Linked DNA regions of Homo sapiens. The protein of the gene in region 2 interacts with the protein of the main gene of each other region in a pairwise test. Each region holds a gene or a part of one and is shown on either strand. Other genes may lie near its edges.

Evidence for each region.
Region 1: the proteins of SELL (region 2) and SLC30A2 interact in binary tests that used the Homo sapiens proteins (3 or more experiments, as listed by UniProt).

The regions. Positions count from the first base shown.
Region 1 is NC_000001.11:26,039,936-26,043,118, forward strand, and holds part of SLC30A2 (proton-coupled zinc antiporter SLC30A2), read right to left. Parts: intron 2,774-3,183; coding exon 2,614-2,773; intron 1,871-2,613; coding exon 1,765-1,870; intron 1-1,764.
Region 2 is NC_000001.11:169,690,167-169,692,393, reverse strand, and holds the end of SELL (L-selectin precursor), read left to right. Parts: intron 1-591; coding exon 592-610; 3' UTR 611-1,727; downstream 1,728-2,227. UniProt on the Homo sapiens protein: Calcium-dependent lectin that mediates cell adhesion by binding to glycoproteins on neighboring cells. Mediates the adherence of lymphocytes to endothelial cells of high endothelial venules in peripheral lymph nodes.

The DNA of each region.
Region 1 (3,183 bases), about 140 Mb from region 2:
ACTAAAGGAAACTACCCCTCCCACGCCTGCCCATTGGTGCAGGGCTGGCTCCTGATCCTCAGGTGTCATCCCCTCAAAGAAGACCTCTTTGGCCTGCAGGTCTGAGGCTGCCTTCACCTCCCAAGGTCTCTGCCCTATCACTCTGTTGTATTTCCTCTCCACTCTTAACACTGAAATTATTTATGAATGTACTTATTGTCAGTTTCTCCCTCTAAAATGGACACTCCATGAGGGCAGGACAGTCTCCTTTGATTACCACAGTATCCTTGGTGCCTAAAACAGCACCTACTCCATAGTAGGTGCTCAATAAATATATTTTTTGGTTTTTTTTGAGACGGAATCTTGCTCTGTCACCCAGGCTGGAGTGCAGTGGCGTGATCTTGGCTCACTGCAACCTCTGCCTCCCTGGTTCAAGCAATTATCCTGCCTCAGCCTCCTGAGTAGCTGGGACTACAGGCGCATGCCACCACGCCCGGCTAATTTTTGTATTTTTGGTAGAGACAGGGTTTCACTGTGTTAGCCAGGCTGGTCTTGAACTCCTGACCTCAGGTAATCTGCCTGCCTCGGCCTCCCACAGTGCTGGGATTACAGGTGTGAGCCACCGCACCTGGCCAATAAATATATTTTTGAATGGAAAGAAGGAAAGAACAGATCCTGAGAATCCTTGGACCCACCCAGGGCACGATCATCATCTTCATCATTATCGCTTTCATCTGGGTTAGCATATTCTTGGAGAAAAAGCTCTGACCTGCAGCCAAATACTGCTAAGCCCAGGCCAGCATCCTACTCCATTCCAGACTGACCCTGACCACGCAGAGGCCTATGACCCTGGCCCAAGACCCCAGGCCTAGAGCATAAGAAAGCCAAGGTGCAGGGCCAGGTGTGGTGGCTCACATCTGTAACTCCAGCACTTTGAGAGGCCGAAGTGAGATGATTGCTTGAGCCCAAAAGTTCGAGACCAGCCAGGGCAACATAGTGAGACCCCCCCCCCATCTCTACAAACATTTAAAAGTTAGCCAGACATGGTGGCATGCGCCTGTGGTCCCAGCTACTTGGGAGGCTGAGGCAGGAGGATTACTTGAGCCTAGGAGGTCAAGGCTGCGGTGAGCCTTGGTGGCACCACTGCACTCTAGCTTGGATGACAGAGCAAGACCCTGTTTCAAAAAAAAGAAAAAAGAAAAAAAAAAGGTAATTCAGGGCAGACCAGATCATTCTCCACCACTGACCGTTCTCCAACCCCACAAAGCACAGCCATGTCCCCACAGGGTGTGGCATTGTTTGGTCCCTGAGATGTAGGAAAGGCCTGCGCTGCAGTGGATTCAGTAGCTTTGTCCAAGGCTGACTGTCCTTCTCTGAGCCTCAGTCTGCCCCTCTGTGCAATGAGAAGCATAATCCTCACCCCCTCTCTCTTCCTGAGAGAAGGCAGCCAGAGCCTGGGGAAGTGTATAGGGGAGGGCTGGAGAGCTCCAGATGCTACAGATGTCCCCCAGAAGCCACCTGACTAGGCAGAGGAGGCACCCTTAGGGGTAGGGGGAAGGGAAGACTCGGGCTGGGGGACGGTTCCAGGAACTGCCACACCTGAAAGCCCAGGCTCTATGTCAAGATCAGCCCAGGGGCCCCAGGAGGTTTTCCAGCCTATGCCGGGGCTCCGGATCCTGGCTCCCCGCCCATGTGCTAGGATGCCCCAGACACACACATACCCTATTTGAGCTGATTAGCGCTTGAGAGCCAAGAGCAAAAAGGGAGCCACAAAGCCCAGGTTACCTTCCATCAACACCAGGATCACATCTCTCAGGATGGTCAAGGTTGTCCCCAGGACCAGGATGGAGAAGACGAAGGTGCAGATGGGGTCTACATACTTGTATTCTGGCTGCAGGAAGACAGGAAGGCAGACCTGGAGTTCACCATCTAACACCTCAGCTTCCCTTCTCCCCTCCCACCCAGCACTGCTGGGGAGAGGTGCTCTCTCTGCTGGGTGGGCATGAGCCTCGCCCTGGCCCTGCCTCCCAGTTTTCTGCTCTTTATTTCACATCTGCAAGAGCAGAAAGGACAGACCACAGTTCAGAATAAGGCAGTCCCTTCCCACCCCTCCTTCTCAAGGAGCTGAGACATGGACAGAGCAAAAAGGCATCTTAGATACCATCTGATCCGCCATCCGTCCCCATTTGACAGATGGGGAAATTGAGGCTCCATTAGAGCAAGCAAACTCATCCAATGTCACATGGCTAGCAAGGAGGAGAGCCAAGCTTCAGAGCAAATGCCTGCCTCTTTCCACTACAGCTCCCTGCCTCTATGTGATGGGCATTGCCCAGGGTTTGACAACACACAGTCGTAGGCTTGAATCTGGCTCTATGCTTTACCGGCTGTGTGACACTGTGCAAGTCACTGAACCTTTCTGAGCTACAGAAAACACTACCACCTACCCTTCAGGTTGTTGTGAGGATCAGAAGTGCTGACACTTGGTAGGTATTGGATAAATGTTCCTTTCCTCTCCCCACCCTTTTCCCTAGAACTGGGAGGGAGCTAGAATCTGAAAAGAAACCCCGGTAGAGAGTATACTCAGGTGGTCTACACTCCCCTGCCACCCCCACCACCCTGTGTCCCAGCTCTGACCTTGAAGTATAAAATATAGGCTGCCACTAGGACACCCATGCTCTGCATAAAGTCGCCGATCACATGGATGAAGGCAGCTCGGACGCTGGGGTTCTCCTCCTGCTGGTTGGTGGTGCCGTGGCTGTGCCCATGGCCAGACTGGTGAAGGGTCAACCCCATTCTATGGAAGTGGAGACAAAGCCAAGGGCTCACTGAGGTCGCAGATGGAGGTCACCTATTAGGACTAGCCAACTTGTAGGGCAAAAATCTCAAGCCCCTAAACCTTGTGATCTCTTTGGCCATGTGAGAAGTCCAACCCACGTGGCCTTGGTTCAGACAGCCATGAGAGATAGGGCCCAGCGCCAATGCCAGGCTGAGCCTGGGCACAACAATGCCACAGTGTCAAATCTCAGAGCAGGAGGGCATTAGGGAGGTCACTGTCAGTTCACTCCATCATGTCACAGATGGGGAAACTGAGGCCTCTGAACAAAGACCCCGAAAGAGACACCCATTGTCTCTAACTGAGACCAATTTCAGACTTGGGTTCTGCCCCTAGGGACAGCTACTCCTGCAACAACTGGCCTCTTCCCG
Region 2 (2,227 bases):
TGCCTGTATTCCCAGCTACTCAGGAAGTTGAGGCGGAAGAATCGCTTGAACCCAGGAGGCCGTGGTTGCATGAGCTGCCTCCGTGCCACTGCACTCCGGACTGGGCAACAGAGTGAGACTCCATCTCAAAAATAAATAAATAAATAAATTAAATTAAATTAAATTAAAATAAACATAAATTTAAAAAATCAATCTACACTGTCCTTCAGACTCATTAGATCTGGAGACAAAGACCGTATGCACCACAAAAATTTCTCCAAGTGGGGTCTGTGCGCCAGTGGCATAAGCATCACTAAAGAGCTTGTTAGGGGTGCAGAATCTCAGGCTCCACTCAGACCTACTGAATCAGAGTCTGCATTTTAACACCATCTCTGAGTGGTAAGCACATGAAAATCTGAGAAGTGCTGCTACTAGGGTTTGCTTACATTTGTTCATCTTCAGAGGTTCCTAAAGCCTGGCCTCTTGTCTGAGATTTCCAGCTGAAAGCATTTCCTTGCTCCTCTTCTCATCTCTAATGAATATTTACCTTTACTACTAACACTCCAAGTTTTGCAATTTTTAAACTCTTATTATCTTTTGTTTTTCTTTCAGTATGAATGACCCATATTAAATCGCCCTTGGTGAAAGAAAATTCTTGGAATACTAAAAATCATGAGATCCTTTAAATCCTTCCATGAAACGTTTTGTGTGGTGGCACCTCCTACGTCAAACATGAAGTGTGTTTCCTTCAGTGCATCTGGGAAGATTTCTACCTGACCAACAGTTCCTTCAGCTTCCATTTCGCCCCTCATTTATCCCTCAACCCCCAGCCCACAGGTGTTTATACAGCTCAGCTTTTTGTCTTTTCTGAGGAGAAACAAATAAGACCATAAAGGGAAAGGATTCATGTGGAATATAAAGATGGCTGACTTTGCTCTTTCTTGACTCTTGTTTTCAGTTTCAATTCAGTGCTGTACTTGATGACAGACACTTCTAAATGAAGTGCAAATTTGATACATATGTGAATATGGACTCAGTTTTCTTGCAGATCAAATTTCACGTCGTCTTCTGTATACTGTGGAGGTACACTCTTATAGAAAGTTCAAAAAGTCTACGCTCTCCTTTCTTTCTAACTCCAGTGAAGTAATGGGGTCCTGCTCAAGTTGAAAGAGTCCTATTTGCACTGTAGCCTCGCCGTCTGTGAATTGGACCATCCTATTTAACTGGCTTCAGCCTCCCCACCTTCTTCAGCCACCTCTCTTTTTCAGTTGGCTGACTTCCACACCTAGCATCTCATGAGTGCCAAGCAAAAGGAGAGAAGAGAGAAATAGCCTGCGCTGTTTTTTAGTTTGGGGGTTTTGCTGTTTCCTTTTATGAGACCCATTCCTATTTCTTATAGTCAATGTTTCTTTTATCACGATATTATTAGTAAGAAAACATCACTGAAATGCTAGCTGCAAGTGACATCTCTTTGATGTCATATGGAAGAGTTAAAACAGGTGGAGAAATTCCTTGATTCACAATGAAATGCTCTCCTTTCCCCTGCCCCCAGACCTTTTATCCACTTACCTAGATTCTACATATTCTTTAAATTTCATCTCAGGCCTCCCTCAACCCCACCACTTCTTTTATAACTAGTCCTTTACTAATCCAACCCATGATGAGCTCCTCTTCCTGGCTTCTTACTGAAAGGTTACCCTGTAACATGCAATTTTGCATTTGAATAAAGCCTGCTTTTTAAGTGTTAACTAGTTTGCCTAGTTTGTTATTTTGAAATTATCATATGTTTTGTTTTCTCCCCAGTGAGATTACATGCTCCTTCAGGGCAGAGTTTGTGTCAGATCCCTGGAGTATCTAGTGCATTACTTGACACTCAATAAATGAATGTTCAAATAAATCAGAAAGAGCATACAGTGCACTGCTGATATAAGTTTCAGCAAACCCTCTTTCTCTATGGCATCTGATGACCTGGGCAGATATCACCTAATGTCAACAGCTGAATTCTTATGAGAGAATAGAGCCCTTTCAGAAGCTAGCTGGAAATACCTCCTTGTCCCATGGCCAATATAGATTTCATACAAATTTGCACACATTATGAGAATAATTTTTTGGTAATGATTACACTTTTCTTTCTCAAAGACATCTCAGATTCTGTATTATAGCAAAAGCTGTTGCAAAAGATTCTCCCTATAGTACACTGTAAATCTTGGATGTGCAAATCACATTCATGTGGTTTAGGGTACATCCC